Linked DNA regions of Homo sapiens: region 1 is linked to region 2. Evidence: fine-mapped expression QTL. A gene starts in region 2. The other region holds a variant in brackets. All regions are shown on one strand. Distances are from middle to middle.

Region 1 (8,858 bases), 110 kb after region 2:
TACAGTGGTGCAATCTCAGCTCACTGCAACCTCTGCCTCCTGGGCTCAAGCAATTCTCCCACCTCAGCCTTCCAAGCAGCTGGGACTACAGACATGTGCCACTATGCCCAACTAATTTTTCTATTTTTTGTAGAGATGGGGTTTGGGCCTCCTGGACTCAAGTGGGGATCCACCCAAAGTGCTAGGATTACAGGCGTGAGCCACTGTGCCCAGTCCATGTTTCATTTTTTAACATGGTTTTGTGTTAAAACCATGTCTTAACGCAATGTCTAAAACCAGCAACAAGGAAATTGAGAATAACTTGGGATTTTGATCACTGTACTTACAGTAAACAAAGAGTTTAATCCCCAAACGACATCCTGAAATAAAAAAGAAAACAGAAAACAAGTTTTAAGCCAAAGTGCACCTAGTCTTTTAAACCCATGATCAAGAAATATGCTTTGCACTGTATCAAAACCTGTCTTTAGCATGGTTTGTTTTTCTCAAGATAGAAAATTAAAATAACTTCTCTTCAAGTGTAACAACAAACTCTGGAAAATTCAAAGATATGAGCAGTCTCAGGTAGTGAATATAAAATCAAAGATAGCATCAGACACCCTCCCAGTCAGACCTGACAAGCCCAATCCTGCACGACAGGGCCCGCAGGCCAGTGTCTGCATAGGGGCTCCACCTTAAATCACCTCTTACTTGTTACCACCAAATATGGTTCTGACTTCTAAAAAGTCACCTTCAAAATAAAGTCTGTTGTTTTTACATCTACTGCCTCTTGCGGTCGTAGATAAGTTAATTACCCCTCATCCTATTAAGTTTTCTTAATGATTTTGCATTAGTTATTTAAAGAATCATAGAAGATTCACAATTCAAGGATCAGAGATTTTCATTAAATAAAACTGAAAGCCAGAGTTGTTCTATCTGTACTGACCTGCCATCTGTGAATCACAAATTCATTCTCCATTTTCCTCTTCATCAACTCAAGAGTTTCGTCCTTTTTAGGCCTGTTCTCATGCTCCTCCCCTACTTTTTGCTAGTTGGTAATTTTATTTGCCTTTCTCTGTTTTCTCTAGTCCATCAATCCATCCACCCACCCATCCCTGACCTTCCGATGTGAGCCAGGCCTAGGGTTGGAGTGTGGGTGAAGGTGAGCCCTCAGCCTGAGGAAGGGGGATGTACAGATGGGCAGGTCAGCAGGCCAGCACTGTTCATGAGACGTGTTCCCCAGAGCACCCACCCTGGGAGGAGAGGCTCCAGAGGCAATGACAGCCATCTGAGCCCCAGGGGAGCAGGAGTCTGCCAGGGAGAGGGCTGGAGGAGAGGGCCGCCTTCCAGGTAGAGGCACGACCTGCAGAGGGAAAGTTCTGAGAGGGCAGGACATTTCTAGAGCGTGGGGAGAGGCTAAGAAAAGGCTGGGTGGGCTGCCCATGGTGGCAGAGACTACAGCTCGGAGGAGCTGGGTCAGGACTGCATGCAGTCTGCAGTGTTCCCTTATGCAGGGCCAGGGCCAAAAGCCCCTTCCTGTGCTGTTCCCCTAGGGTCCCTGCCTGATGTTAGGTACCCAACACCTGACAGTCTTCTCTGGCCATAGGGAGTGGTTTGCACATCAATTTGCTGCTCCTCCTCCAACACCTAGTGGCCAGAAAAGCTCAAGACATCCCTGTTGAATGAATGATGGCCATGAGGTTTCCTATGTGGCGGGTGGTTTGGCTGTGAAGCCTGCAGTTTGGGCTCCTATCTCTGGTTCTAGAATGGTGCCTGGCAAAGTCAACAAGGATGCTCATCCGGCCCAAACTGACCGAGGTCAGTGACTGGCTAAGTAGCCTAGGCAGCAGGGAGAAGAGGAGGCAGGGTGTGTCCGGCCACTGGTGTGGATGTGACAGGCAAGGACATGTGCTGCTTTCTCGGGAGGCTGGCTACTGCAGGGAGAGGACCACAGGGACAACTTATGATCAAGATCAAGGCACAGACTCTACCTTTAATGTTCTTGTGGGAGCCCAGCCAGTGCCATCAATTGAATGTTCTCTCAATAAACTGAAAAAGACAAACACACAGTGGTTAGTGAGGAGCAGCCACAGGTGCCCTGCACGCTGCCAACTAGTCCTCTCGGTGTGTGCCATGCAGGAGCTCTACTTTTTATTAAACCCATCTTTTCCTCTGTGGCTTCTCAGTTTTCTCTTGCTGAGGAAGGCATTTCCACCTCCAAGGTTATATACATATTCAATTATAACGTCTTGTGTTATGTTTATCTATTTGTTGTAATACTTGACATGGAAGTTTTAGGCTGAGGAAGAGCATGTTTAAAACAACACACAAAGAACATTTGTCAATTTAATATTCAGAAAATGACAATGGTGGCTGGGTATGGTGGCTCATGCCTGTAATCTCAGCATTCTGGGAGGCCGAGGCAAGGTGGGAAGATAGCTTGGGTCCAGGAGTTTGAGACCAGCCTGGGCAACACAGTGATACCCTGTCTCTACTAAAAATTAAAAATTAGCCAGGCATAGTGGTGCACGCCTGTACTCCCAAAGGTGGAGGACTGCTTGAGTCCAGAAGTTCAAGGCTGCAGTGAGCTGTGATGGCGCCCCTGTACTCCAGCCTGGGAATAGTGTGAGGCCCTGTCTCAAAAAAAAAAAAAGAAAGAAAGAAAGAAAATGACAATGGCAACAAAATGACAACATGACAACAGGAGTAACTGAAGCTTAGAGCTTATTATGTGTATGTCAGGCACAATCCTAGGTGCTGTGCCATTAAATTCACTTAATGCCTATAACCACCCGTGAAGAGAGCATCCCTGTTTCCCTGTCTTATACAGGAGGAAACCAAGGCACAGAGAAGACACGCCCAAGGGCACACGCCTCATGAACAATGTTGTTCTTCCAACCCAGGCAGCTCACGGGCACCGACATTCTGAAACACTGCTGATGCAGGTTAACAACAATGGGAGCTCCCAGCATATGACATTTTAATAACTGGGTTTTTTTTTTTTTTTTTGAGACGGAGTCTCTCTCTGTCTCCCAGGCTGGAGTGCAGTGGCACGATCTCGGCTCACTGTAAGCTCCACCTCTCCGGTTTTACGCCATTCTCCTGCCTCAGCCTCCTGAGTAGCTGGGACTACAAGGCATGCACCACCTACGCCCGGCTAATTTTGTTTTTTGAATTTTTAGTAGAGACGGGGTTTCACCGTGTTAACCAGGATGGTCTCGATCTCCTGACCTCGTGATCCGCCCGCCTCGGCCTCCCAAAGTGCTGGGATTACAGGCGTGAGCCACCACGCCCAGCCGTAACTGGGTTTTTTTTTTTATTTTTTTAAAGTTCAAAAGAAAAAGCTTGAGGATAAAAGATTAATGCAAAATTCTGAGTATCAATCACTCCTTAGGTGGGGGGCCCATGCTCAGGGAAGGCACACCAGGATTCAGAGGTCTGATGAAGCCCTGTTTCTGAAGCTGGTACCTGAGAGTCCTGGTCATTACTGTCTATCAGCTGTAAAGGCACACCATATACTCTCATGGAAATGATCATTCCAGTGCTCACTTCCGCAGCACATATGCTCAAATTGGGATGATACAGAGAAGATTAGCATTTTCCCAATAATCTTAAAAAGTAAAAAAAAAATTTTAAATAATTTTAAAAGGATTAAATGATCATTCCATACTTTGAAAAAAGTATAATTTATTGCCAAGCTTCCTTCTGGAGATAAAATTACTTTTGTATTTGTTGAATTATTGTGCTGTGGCTTTGATCTGTAAATAAAATATCAGGCTTTATCCATAATTGTTACCTCTGATAAACTTTTTTGAATTAGAGCATGTTTAAATTCACAAAAGTCAATTCAGATCAGGAGAAAAATATGTAGAGTTTGAATCAAAGCTATAATCTTAATTGTCTGTGAAGAGCAGTTAAAAAAAACAGATAACTAACCTTAAATTGACCATTAAAATTTACTTTTAGCCTTAAAAAGAAAAAAGGAAAACTCAAATCATGTATCCTACCAACTGGGTGGACGTCTTTCTACCCTACAGAGGTATTGGTGACTTGTGGATCTGAATTGTCAACTTCTGAATAACTTTTTTGGGAATGAAGTCAAATCCTAGTGGCTATATTTTGTTGAATGGAGGAATTATTTCTGATCTAGCTAATCATTTTCTTATATAGATCTTAATGCAACCTTCAGTTATATATTTGTCATTTATTTGTTGAATGCCTGTTTCATCCATAAAAGCAGGGAATGCTAATTCCTCTGCCAGTGCCTAAGCTCAATCAACATTAGCTGAATGAAGGAGAAGGAAGCTCACCCTGAGCTTTGCTGTTAACAGCACAGCCAGAGCAGGAGGGCTTTGCATCTGGCTGGGGCA[G/A]GTAATGGGGAGGCAAGGCCGGCCCCAGCATGTGGTGGCCACTGGTCTGGGCAGCAGTGAGGCCCATCAGGGGTGCAGTGCCTCCAGTCACTGAGGAAGTTCTAGCCTGGCCTCACAGAGGATAGTCCCAGCAACAGCTCAGGAGACAGAGACACTTGGCTATCAGAGATGTCATTAAGCAAGGAGACAAAGGACACCCCACGAACTGTAATAGAAGCTTGGACTCTAGGAGAAGCTTTGACTGAGCTCTTGACCTAGGCCCTCCAATCCCACAGACATGGAGCCTCTGACCTTGTGCCAGAGCAGGCGAAGGGTCCCTGCCGGGACAACAAGGTGGAGCCAGGGCAAATCTCTCTAAAAGAGGAAGGTGCTCCTGTGTGCCAGCACTGAAAGGCCTGTGGAGCCCCAGGCACCCATCAGTCCTGCTGTGGGAAGGGCTGATGAGCTGCTGTCAGCGTCACCACAAACCAGAGGTGCGGTTGGGCTTTTCCTTCCCTTTATTCGGGACACACCATAAAGCTGCCACTGGACACTGTCTGCTTTTCACTAACAAGGTGGTCCCCGTACATCAATCTGGCACATTATTTCCTTAGATTAAATCCCTAGAAGTGCAGCTGACAAGTCCAAGGGTACATACGAGTTACAGGTAGTCTACGTGGCTGAAGGACCAATGAAAGGTGTGCAAATACACACACCCTCCAACAAGAGAGCCTGCTCGCTCTCTGTCACACACTCCTCCCCCAGCCACCAAGTATCTACCTTTGTGCCTGCCAATCTGGTGAGTGGTAAGCCACACTTCATGGTCTTCTGCGCCTTTCTCTGGTTACTGATGAGAGTGAACATCTCCTCAGATATTTACTGCCCACCTCTATTTCTCCTTTTATGAATCACCTATTTGTAGCCAATGCCACATTTTTCCAGAGAAGTATCCGTCTTTTTTATAATGAATAGTAAGGACTATTTACATACCAAGGATGTTAATCCAGTTGATCATTTCTTCTTCCATTTTGTGTTTTTAATTTTTACATGGTCAAATCTGACAATCTTTTTCCTTAAGACGTCTGGCTTTTATATCAGGATACCATCTGTTCATCCTTATAAGGCTTTGCTAATCATCTGACTTCCCAGAAGACGGCAAAAGGGACAAGAGAGCTTCCTATTCTGGACCCATTTCTGACTAAGGCAGGGACAAGACAGGGAAGTAGAGTATGGCCCCCCAGAAAGTGAGCCAGGTGTCCTCACAAGCACAGGAGGAAGCGGGGCAGTGGGGGCCTGGGCCAAACACATTTATAACCTGCAACCAAAGATAGTGGAATTTTAATGTTTCAATACGTAAAGGACAGATACTTCAAAGGGAAGATGCTTTTTTAAAAAGGTATGTCTGGTAAAATGTATTTTTAACCATCTGTGAAAAACGAGGCTGATATTGAAGAAGGAGCAGTATATACAAAAATGAAATGGGCAAATGGGCACTAACTGTACTTGTGAAGAGAAAGGCATCCGGCCCGGCGCGGTGGCTCACACCTGTAACCCCAGCACTCTAGGAGGCCGAGGCGGGCAGATCACAAGGTCAGGAGATTGAGACCATCCTGGCTAACACAGTGAAACCCAGTCTCTACTAAAAAATACAAAAATTAGCCGGGCGTAGTGGTAGGCGCCTGTAGTCCCAGCTACTCGGGACGCTGAGGCAGGAGAATGGCGTGAACCTGGGAGGCGGAGCTTGCAGTGAGCTCAGATCGCGCCACTGCACTCCAGCCTGGGCAACAAAGCGAGACTCCATCTCAAAAAAAAAGAGAAAGGGATCCTGAGGTAAGATTTCCAGCAGCCACAGTTTACACATTTCCTTTCAAAGGTGATTAGTGTTTACTAAGGAGAGAGGAATGAAAGAAAAGAGATACGGAAGTTGAGCATGAGAAATGACTTAGGCCACTAATTGCATTTCATGTCAAAAGTAGGAGAAATGTGCTAAGAAAACACTTTGTGCCTACTTTCCAAACTGGCTGAGTGTGAGGCACATACAGTTCAAATACCTAGCCTAAAGTCCCACAGCTGCCCCGGGCAGCCGGGCAGGGGTGGGGGCGGGGGCGGCGAGCTGGACTCAGGTCCAGGTGGTCTGATATCAAAGCCCCTGCAATCAACCTTGCTGCCTTAAAGTGATGAAAGGGACAAAGTGCAGAAAAAATAAAGCCCAAATGTGAAACTTACTTTAAAAACCAACCAATCCACCTACACAACTTTTCCAGCAGCCTTAGGAGGAGAAATCACTGATGCCTGACGTTCTGCCCATGCCAGGGATCAGGGACACAAGTCACAGCAGGCATGAAGCTCCGAGAGGCTGCCTGCCCTAAGTGCCCTGACATCTATCAGGACCATTTTGGTAGAGAGAGGGCAGCTTAAATACAAGTGCCCAAGGTCGTCTCAAGCCTGCCATCTACATTTTTTCTCCTGGGTATCTATCATTAATCATATTTTCTCATCTTAGCTAAAATCAGCCACATGGAGGGAATGTGGTCTCTCATGTAAATAGGAGGGGAACAAGGCAAGGGACTCCAAGGGTCCATCCTGGGCAGGCAAGGAGGCTGCACTAAGAACTTAGTAGGGCTGTGGCCCCCAGAGGGCCAAGAGAAGACACTCGTCTGGAGGCAGAAGGTAGGGTAGGGTTTGGGAGCAGGCAGGCAACCGCAGCTACTTCAGCTGAGTTCAAGCCCTTCCTAATCTTGGCCATGCCTCAAAATCTTTTCAGAGGAGACAACATGTTTAAAAGCCCAACGCTTGCACATGACACTCACGAATGTAGAAGAAAGAAAAGACAATAAACTCACCTCAGACATATTTCCCCTGTCTCTGTGATGTTGGGGTGCCAGATCTTGGTCAGGCATTTCACTTTGGGAGGCTGCAACACAGAGACAATGAGAGAGATCACGCCGACAGTCTCTGCAAATCACATCTCCAGGCCAGAGCCTTACCACATCCCCTATCTAGACGCTTGTTTCATGGCTGACTCAGTGTGCAGTTTGACTCGCTGAACACGTGTTCAACCCTGAATACTGGCTCACCTCACCCATGAGGCATGTGTTGATGCGCTGCATCCACAAGGGCTAGTCTCAGCAGCAAAGTCTACCCGTGGGCTTCTGAGCACCTCTCTACAAGCCCCATGTGTCCTGCCGGCTGACAGTGCTGGTGACTGGACCTCTGTCACCTCCCACACCCCCTGGGTTTGGGACTGCAGAAGGTATCCACAGTGCACTCTAAGGAATAGTTCTACATCCTCTGGGTCCAAATCCAATCAGAAGCCCCAGATTCCTTTGCAATACAAGTTACTATGGCTGAAAGTTACTGCTCCTTGCAAGAACAGCCTGTTCCATTTGCTGGATTTTTCTGAAGATGCTATTGTCACATACGTTTTCCTAGATGAAAGCCCTAGTCCACTTTACATTTAAAGGAGAGAAAGAGAATGAAAATGAATTTGTGGGGATAAAGTATATCAACATCATTTATGACTTGGCATGTTTGGATAAAGTTCTTTTAAGATTTTTCTAGTTTGGGCATGGTGGCTCACTTTGGGAGGCCACCTAAAAGAAGAAAATATAATTAATGATAGATACCCAGGAGAAAAAAATCTCAGCACTTTGGGAGGTCGAGGTGGGAGGATTGCTTGAGGCCAAGGGTTTAAGATTAGCCAGGGCAATATAGTAAGACCCTGTCTCTCCAGGGAAAAAAAAAGAGCTGGGCATGGTAGCTCCTGCTTGTAGTCCCAGCTACTCAGGAGGCTGAGGTGGGAAAATCACTTGAGCTCAGAAGTTGTAGGCTGCAGTGAGCTATGATCGCACCATTGTACTCCAGCCTGGGTGACAGAGCGAGTCCCTGCCTCCAAACCAGAAAACCAAACCAAACCAAACCAAACAGATTTCTCTGTTACAAAGGCAATCCATACTCAGAGAGAAAAGGACAACACAAATGAAAAGAAACATACGTAAATATCTAATAAATTCTGCTGTCTTTCACTTTTGTTTTTTATGTAAGAATATATACACTCCATCAAAATGCTACCCAGAAATTATGTGACACCTGATGTACATGTGTTTATGCCTCTTTTCTAGGCCACACACATAGTGTGCATGCAGCATACTCATTTTTCTTTATAGAAGAAAGCTGTGCTACATATGTTTTAGTTATTTCTGCCATCGTTTCAGATGGCATCCTGCATTCCATGGTACACCTGCCCGAGTTTAATAGGCACTTCCCTACCTCTGGGCCCTCAGGTTGCTTCCTCTTCTCCCAACCCTGCTCTATCAATGCAGGGTTCATCCTGGGTGAAATGTTTCCTCAGGATGAAGCCCAGGAAGAGGATCTGCTGGTCATAAACCCTAGCTTCTGATACACTGCTCATGTCCTTCAGAAGATGTGACACCCCGCCCGCCAACCCCACCACAACCTGCAGTAAGGGAGAGGGCCTCTTCTCCAGGACCTCCCACAGAAAGGTCCCCTTGGTTAATATGCAGAAGTGTCAAA
Region 2 (8,858 bases):
ATGGAACCCCCAGATCTCCCACTGCCAGGAATTAGAATACAAGGTGACCGTCCACGGGCAAGGCTCTGAAGCCAGCTCCAGCAGGAGGCCGGGCGCTCTGTGACTGGCTGGAATCCAGTGGGGACAGGGGTTAGGGTTTAGCCCACTACTCACTCCACCCTTGGCCTGAGGACCATCAGTCTGAGCCACTCTTTGTCCCCGGACTTGGCTCTAAAGGAGTGCCCCGAAGCAAGGCCCCTGAGCAGGGTGCCCGGCAGCTGACCGAACAGCCACTCCCAGACCTGTCATTCCATCATGACCTGCCATGCCTGCCAGGCACACTGCCAGCACAAACAGGAAGTAGCACCCCATAAAAGCTCAGGCGGACTGCCAGGCCTGTCTGTGCCTCCTTGCCTGTGCACAAGCTGCACCTCCTTCCTGGATGGTTTTCCCCTCTTTTCCTCCTTGTGAGCTCCTATCCCTCCTCTAAGGCCCAGCTCAGATGCTGCCTCCTCCAGAGAGCCCTCCTTGACTGCCAGCCCACCCAGAATGCGTCCTAGGCATGTATTTGGCCCTTCCACACTGCCTGAGGTCTGTTTCCAGGCTTGTCCCACTGAGCTGCAGGCTCCTTCAGGACAGGGCCAGATCTTACCACTTCCACATTCCCCTGCCCCTTGCACACAGGGCGTGACACACACAGAGGCATGATCTGCACTTGAGGGCTGAATAGTGATGTCCTCATGGGGAACTGGCCCAAAACAAGGAGCGTGGCAAGGTCAGAGTGCACCTTGGAATGTCCACTCCTTACTCTGTCCCTACTCAGGTGGGGTCTCTGGGGCTCTCCTCCCTGCTTCCCAGGGATGGGGCCTCCCAGCCGCTCACTCACCCCATCATGGCCCTGGGACAGGGCTGCCCGGCATGCCTCTGACTCCTGGATCAGGGGCTCTGAGGCCAGCAGTTGCTGCACGCAGGGCCTGGGCACGGCGTCCAGGTGCACTAGGCTGAGCAGCTCGGGCAGGTGGGCGGCCCGGGCCTGCGGGTCATGGCGCACCCAGCGCATCAGGGCCTCGAGTCGGCTTTGCTCCGGCTGTACCTGCAGCAGGTCGCCGGCCAGACAAGTGACCAGCCGCTCTCGGGGAAGCTGCAGGAACTCGTCCTCACGTGCCACAGCCTCAAAGTTCTCTCGCAGGAAGGCCCAGGCCTTGGCAGCCACGCCCAGCAGCCCTTGCTGCTCCCCGAACTCACAGATGCCCAGGCAGTTGGCGGCATCCAGTTGCTGCTGCAGGTAGCGGCCGCAGACCTTCTGCACCGAGGGGAAGTGCAGGCGCGCAGCCGTGCGTGTCAGCGCCTCCACGTTGCCCTGCGTGATGGTCAGCCGGCCTGTGTACACGAAGTCCACCAGTTGTCCCACCACGGCGGGCTCCACGTCCCGCAGCTCCACGCGCGCAGAGAAGCTCTCGGCGAAGTCACCCGCAAACATGGCATGGAAGTAGGGGCTGCTGAGCGCCAGGAGGCCGCGGTGGCATGGCAGCTCCCGGCCGCCCACCAGCAGTGTGACGTCGGCCAGCTTGGGCTGAGAGCGCAGGCGCTGCAGGCCATCCAGCATGTCCTGGGCATGCGAGGGCAGGTGGAAATCCAGGTCATCCACGTTCCGCACCATGACGCCGTGCCCAGGGGACCTCAGTAGTCCACCCACTCAAGGGAAGAAGTGCCTGGAGCCGCCCGAGCTCCTAGGAGAGAAGAGAGCAGGGTCAGCCAAGTGGGGATGGTCTCATCCTCCTGAGCAACCCACCCGGTCTGTCCATCAGCCCTTTCCACCCCTTGATAAACACAGGATGGGCATCGACCATATGCCAGTCACTTTACCCCCCATCTGCCTCAAGCCACCCCCAGAACCCTGCAAGGTAGGGCAGGTGTCATTCCCATTTGCAGTGAGGAAATTGAGGTTCAGAGAGGGTGGGAGACCTACCCATGGCCAGGCATTCAGGGCAGAACAGGGTTGGCAAAAGAACCCATGCCCTGGGTGTCATCTGCAACCCTGGGCTACACTGAGCCCACCCCCCAGGGACCCCGGAGACACCCAAACTCCCGGGAGGCGTCCTCCGTCCCAGATCCCACATTGCTGGGGAGGCCATTTGGGGGCTGCAGCAGCTCCTGCTCCCGCGGTGCTCCCAGGTGCCAGGCCACGTGCCAAGCATGCAGAGAAGCTGTGCATTCACCACTCAGCCCCACAACAGTCCTGGAGGGTGGGTGCAATCATTGCCTCTTTTACAGCTGGGGAGACTGAGGCACAGAAGGTTTCAGTCACTTGCCCAAGATCACACATTTAGGAAGTGGTGGAGCTGGAATTTGAACTCAGAGCTAGGCTTGGGGGCCCAGGCTCTGAACCCTGCATTCCACGTGGCCGGGTGGAGGCTGCTAAACAGAAACGGCCAGCCAAAGGCAGCGTTCTGGAGGGTTTCGCGTCACCACGCCCGCATGGTTGAAGTCAGCAAGGCCGCTTTCAGGCTCATGTAATTATGTGCATGTGGTTTATGTCCTTCTGGTATCGCACCCTAAGACAACCATCCCTAGGAGAGATCAAGTCTGTGCACAAGCCTTCGACCCGGGTCACCCCAGGGCGAAAGGCTGCGCAGCGGAGAGGCCGTTCGCCCGCTAGGGGGCGCCTCGCGGGGCCATCCCGGGCAGGAGAGGCGGCCGCGCGTCCACAGGTACAAAATGCGTGGGAACGCCACGCATGGAAATGACAAAGCTCAGCTGGAGAACCAGGAGGCCAAGAATCTGGCCCGGGCAGCCACGGTGCAGGTACAGGTGCAGGCGATGGGAGCTAGGGCTCCCCGACTTCCCGACCCCGGTGCCACCTCTTGACCCCAGAGCGGGGAAGCACCTGGGAGCCCACAGGGCCTCGCGGACCAACCCGGGCTCGCGCACAGGGCAGCTCACGTGGCCGGGGCCCCACACCCCAGCATCCCGGCCGGTACACGAAGTACCCACCCAACACTGCATGCATGGGGTTCCTGCCTGGCCCCTCCCCAGGAGGCGCTGGCCCCGGTGAAGGCGGCTCTGCCCTCCCTGGGCAGCCGGGAGATGAGCTGGGGCCTGAGTAGGTGACAGGGCTGTCCCTGGGCCACCGCCTGCAGGCCTCACATTCCCGTCATTGTTGTGCTCCCTTGGGCCAGCTGCTGCCGGGCGATGGGCAGGCACGCATGAGCGCCCCCACTTCCCCTGGGGGCCTCGGGGTGCCTGCTGACACCTGTCACCCTGCAGTCCCTGCATGGGTCGGGGCTTCCTGAGGGTCTCAGAGCCTCACCCCAGTGCCTGCCCAGGCCCGGAGTGAGGAAGCCGAGTGGGCAGGACAACAAAAGGCCTGAGCCCAGCCAGGCTGGCGACTGTGGCTGAGTGGCCCTGGCTGCCATCTGAGGGGTGGCCCAGCCTCCCCCTCCCACCTCTCCGGCTGGGACATGGAGGGAAACCTGTCTCCTGAGCCCCCACCCTGAGGAGCCTGGCTTGGCCGCTGGCAAGGGCCAGGGGGCGTCTCCAAAGCACCCTGCTGTGATCCCTGGCCTCGGGGGCCTAACCCACCCTCCCCGCTGCTCCTGGCTGGGTTCCCCCTGCCCTCTCTGCTGTCCCCTGCCCCAGAGCCCCCTGGATCCTACCTCTCACTCAGCCTGGACCTCGAAGCTGAGAACACAGACCCGAGAGAGCAGGACTGCCTAGCCGGCAGCCAGGGGACACGGAGGCCTGCAGGGCGGGGCAGGGCTGGTCTGGTGGCCACGTGGGGAGGGTATTTTTAGCCTCTGTCTGCAGGGCGAGGGGAGGGTCAGGCAGTGAGGGCTGGGCTGGTGGGGGAAGGAGTGAGATGCCGGCTCCTTGGTGACTGTTAGCTCAGAAAGCCCACTGAGGCCTTCCAGGGACTTGTGGCCTAGGACAGACATCAGGAAGGGCTCCAGGGCAAGGACAGGTGAAAGCTGTCGCGGTTGGGCTGGCTGGTGGGGGCAGGGATGCAGCTTCCCCACCTGTTTCCTCGTCTACAAGTTGAGTACAGTGGAGCCCGTGGTGGGGGCCTGGGGTCACAGAGACCCTCAGCCCAGGGCCAGGACACCGACAGGTGCTGCCCTCGCTGTTGATGTCAGCGGCACCTATGTGTCCTCTTGTTCTGTTGTCACGTGGGAAAACGTGATTATCATGAATAAGCACAGGTTGGTCAGCAGAGGCTTTCCGAGCTTGGGGTCCATGGTGGCGGTAGGGAAACTTTGCCCAGAGAGGGGAGGTGCCACACTCAGTTGCCCCGCCCAGCTAGCGTGGATAGGGGAGATCTTGGGGCTCCTTGCCCTGCTACCCCATGGCCTTGGCCTCGGGGCTGCCCAGGACGGCTAAGAAACAGGGTCACCTAAAAATACAGCAGTGGACTATCAGCCTCCCGTCCAGCACTTGGTTCACGGTAGTCGCAGGGGGAAGCTCTCACGCCTGGGACTGAAATGGGCTCAGAACCACAGGCCCTGACCAAGGTCAGGTGGGTTGAGTTGGGGACCCAAGAGGCCACTGGACATTTCTCACACCAGTGACCAGAGCAGAGCTTTGTGGCTGAGGGACTTCAGGTGCATGGGAGAGAAGCCCTCAGCCCTCAGCCCTCTACCCATCGGCCATGTGGGCCTGAGCAGTATGACCATTTCCAGGTGTGCTGCGACCTGGAGGAACTGGGGAGTATTGGGTCTGGCTGTGGCCTCTTGATGCTACTAGGGATTGTCCTAATGCTCTTACAGACCAGAGAGGTCCAGGCGGCCCCCAGGGAGACAGAACCCCACTCCTGGTCCTGAGATGCACACAGCCTATGGAGGGGAAGCTCACCTACAAATTACTGCCAAGTCTGCAAGGTGCCCTTAGGGTTACCTTCCATAGAGATTCCCTGAGTCCATGCTTCCTCTACAGCCCAGCCTGGCCCAGCCATAGCCCAGCCATAGCTCAGCCCAGCTCAGCTATTGCCCAACCATAGCCCAGCCATAGCCCAGCCCAGCTCAGCTATTGCCCAACCATAGCCCAGCCATAGCCCAGTCCAGCTCAGCTATTGCCCAACCATAGCCCAGCCATAGCCCAGTCCAGCTCAGCTATTGCCCAGCCATAGCCCAGCCATAGCCCAGCCCAGCTCAGCCATAGTCCAGCCGTAGCCCAGCCGTAGCCCAGCCCAGCCTGGCCCCTGCTCCTGCTCTTTCCCCTGCTCGTGTCCCACACTGTCCCAGGGTTTTTCCCCAGCCTTGGGCATCAGCCTCATGTTGTGTGGGGGACCCTCATGGAGGACCCCAACTCTCGCTGTGTCCAGGACCACTATGGGGTGGGCGCTAGAGTGTTGGGTTTCCGTACTGTCCCCCTTGTTTGCAGTCCTGGCTCGGGCTGGAGGAAATGAGGACAGGGGATTCTGATGACAGGCTGCTGTCACGGGGAGCTGGCTCTGCTCGGGGAACAGCACTGCTTGCCAAGTGTGGAGGCCTCACAGCAGCCGTCGTGGGGCTCGGAGCCCCAGCACCTCAGATGACAGGTCAGTCTGGGAAACTCAACACCGGGGGCGCAAAACAGATCCTCCATCAAGAGATTGCTACTGAGTGGCGCAGTTTTTAAAAATACACCACTTGTTTCTTTTTATGAGGATAAAAATAACACAAGTTCCTTTTGGAAAACAGAAAAATAAAAAGCAGAAAGTGTCATTAGTAAAAGATCATTTGCCATTAGTATGCTTCCAGCTCTTTCCTGTTGTCAAAATGAGCCTGCCTGCGTGTGTGGGTCAGCGCCCTTTCCTCACACCTTGTTATATTGTGGGCGTTTCTGATGGGATCAGCACTTGAAGATTTTGAATTTCTGCCGGGCATGGTGGCTCATGCCTGTAATCCCAGCACTTTGGGAGGCTGAGGCGGGTGGATCACCTGAGGTCAGGAGTTTGAGATCAGCCTGGCCGACATAGTGAAACCCCATCTCTACTAAAAACACAACAATTAGCCAGGAGTAGTGGCGGTGCACACCTATAGTCCCAGCCCGCAGACCCTCCCGCCCCAGGCCAGGCTTCCGATGACTGCAGTTGGGCTGAGCACTTCATGGGACCCTCCTGAGACATCCTGAGGTGCAGCCACCCCACACACGTGCTCCCGAGGAGAAACTGAGAGACGATGCGTGTGACCATGCGTGTGTGCTGTTCAAGGACATTGGATTTCAGGCAGTTGACTATGCAGCACTAGGTCACTAGTACAGCAGACAAAAACATGTAAACAGCAGAGCAATGGGGGGCTTCCATCTCAGATACGAAGATGTCATCATTACAGCGTAAAATGCCATCAAACAAGGTGGTTTTGACCCAAGAATAAACAAATCCCAACAGCCAATGCACAGAAAGCGGTGCCACGGCAAGTCCGCAGGGAAGGAGGGGCCGTCTGACGTGTGAGAGTGCTGGTGAAAGGGAAACAAGGTCAGCCCGATGGAACCCAGGCCCCAAATCACCCCAGATGGAGTGAGAGGTGCTGTGCAGGGCTGTAAGGCCCCCGAGAAGGGGGCAGACTGATATGCGGACCCAGCCTGGGACATCCTCACAGCTGGAAGGCCCCCAGCCCAGCAGAGGGGAGCTCACTCACACAGTTTTTTGTTTGTTTGTTTGTTTGTCTCTTTGGAGATGGAGTCTCGCTTTATCACCCAGGTTGGAGTGCAGTGGTGCAATCTCCGCTCACGGCAACCTCCGCCTCCTGGGTTCAAGCGATTCTCCTGCCTCAGCCTCCTGAGTAGCTGGGATTACAGGTATGCACCACCATGCCCAGCTAATTTTTCTGTATTCTTAGTAGGGATGGGGTTTCACCATGTTGGCCAGGATGGTCTCCTGACCTCAAGTGATCTGCCTGCCTTGGCCTCCCAGAGTGCTGGGATTACAGGCGTGAGCCACTGCACCCGGCCTTACAGATTTTAACTCGGTGATTTCACGCTCGGAATCCATTCTGAGGGAATAATCACACAGGTGACACCACCTTCATTGTAATAGTCCCAAATGGAAAACAGCCTGAGCGTCCACGAACAGAAGGAGGTTATCACTCCCAGCTTCACAAAGAGCAACGTCATCCTATTGAGATGAAATTGAAAATCTTTTTTGTTTTTGAGACAGAGTCTTGCTCTGTCACCCAGGCTGGAGTGCAGTGGCATGAGCTCGGCTCACTACAACCTCTGCCTCCCAGGTTCGAGCAATTCTGCCTCAGCTTCCCGAGTAGCTGGGATTACAGGTGCCCGCCACCACGCCCAGCTAATTTTTGTGTTTTTAGTAGAGACGGGGTTTCACCATGTCGGCGAGGATGATCTTGATCTCTTGACCTCGTGATCCACCTGCCTCAGCCTCCCAAAGTGCTGGGATTACAGGCGTGAGCCACCGCACCCGGCCGACATTGAATTTTTAAATGAGCTGGGCTTTGCATTAAGCCTGTGCACCGACATGCAGGGAGCCCGCCCCTCTGCACATTGACCCAGCTGCGAGGGAGAAGCTGGGGTTCCAGCACCGCCCTTGGGGAGGGTTTCTGTTTTTCCACATCTCCATCCTGCCATCTATGGACTGGGGACACGGGGCTCCCTTTCTCCTGGATGTTTCTGACTCATGGGAAGCCCCCAGGCTTTGCGCCTTTGCTTTGCGTGTGACCACCTCACTGACATCGGCACCTCCGGGGTGCTGTAGATTCCGTCTCTGGTCCTCAGTGAGTCTTTTGTCAATTGAACAACAGATTTATAGGCACCAAATGGGCCCTACAGCTGTGAGTGTGGTGGCGCAGGGGCCAGTGCCTGCCTGCCCCCGGGGACACGTGCTTCCCACAGGTGAGCTGCTGGTGGGCCACGGGTGCCAGCTGCTGGGAATCGGAGCCGCCTGGAATGTGTTAAAACCCCAGCTTTCCAGACCTACCCCAGGCCAAGGGAATCAGAATCCCTGGGGCAGCTCCCCCAGAGGCAGGGTGTTGGCAGAAGGTCATTTAGGGGTCACCCCAGCAGCACTCCAGGGGCCTAGCCTGGATCTGAGCCACATCTCACCCCTCGCCTGGCTCATCCCACCCCAGGCTCTCCTGGGACCCCTGATGTGTGTGTCCCCTGCTGGCCTTGATCCAGCTCCTCAGCTGGGAAACTGAGGCCTGGAGGCTATGGAGGACTTGCCCAAGGGCATAGCGAGTGGGCAGGGACAGCCGGAGCCAGGAGGGCCGACTCCCTGCCCAGTGCTCTCTCTTGAGCACCCTCGGCCAGGGAGTGACCTGAGGCCTGCTGCCCCTGCCTCCAGCCCCCTCCTCTGTCAGGGCCCTCAGAACAACATTGCCAGCAGCTGGTGCATGAGGGGATCTCAGGAGACACTGCAGCGCCCAAACCTTCTGATGCCCCCAGCCAAGGGCTCTCCCTAGACCCACCTGCTGCCCCTTGCCCTCTGCCAGCCCTGGGCAGTGACCGCACTGGGTGGAGCAGCCCTGCTCTGTCTCCACTGGGGGCGTGTTGTGGCCAAGAGCCAGGGCCCCACTGACTGAGAGGCAGCGTTCAGGATGCTCCTGGCTGCTCCCAGTGCCCTGCTCGTTAGAAGCAGCTCAGAAACACCTGTAATCCCAGCACTTTGAGAGGCTGAGGCGCGCAGACTGCTTGAGCCCAGGAGTTCAAGACCAGCCTGGGCAACATAGCAAGACTTTGTCCCTACAAAAAATAAAAAGAAATTAGCTGGGCATGGTGGCTGACACCTGTAGATTCAGCCACTGAATCTACAGAAAAGAAAAGAAAAAGAGAAAGAAAGAAAAGAAAATGAAGGAAAGAAAGGAAGAAAGAAAGGAAAAAAGGGAAGAAAGAAACAAAGAGAAGGAACTCTGAAATGCTGGCTGCACGTTGGTGAGTGTCTGAGA

Evidence for each region. PIP is the estimated chance that this variant, and not a neighbour inherited with it, causes the effect.
Region 1: its variant is fine-mapped to the expression of KLHL30 in whole blood (TOPMed, PIP 0.92).

The regions. Positions count from the first base shown.
Region 1 is chr2:238,023,723-238,032,580 of GRCh38, reverse strand. UBE2F (ubiquitin conjugating enzyme E2 F (putative)) reads right to left here. Exons shown (of 10, transcript NM_080678.3): 6 at 7,169-7,239; 7 at 1,968-2,025; 8 at 327-359. UBE2F-SCLY (UBE2F-SCLY readthrough (NMD candidate)) reads right to left here. Exons shown (of 19, transcript NR_037904.1): 5 at 1,968-2,025; 6 at 327-359. It also overlaps the pseudogene RNU6-1333P. Among named protein-coding and RNA genes, the nearest start is that of SCLY, 33 kb to the left of the region's middle. RefSeq lists an enhancer at 3,870-4,483. The variant G/A (reference allele first, on the strand shown) is at 4,347.
Region 2 is chr2:238,133,536-238,142,393 of GRCh38, reverse strand. It overlaps KLHL30 (kelch like family member 30), which reads right to left and starts at 3,726. Exons shown (of 8, transcript NM_198582.4): 1 at 3,636-3,726; 2 at 866-1,709. The coding sequence starts at 1,639. RefSeq lists an enhancer at 957-1,470.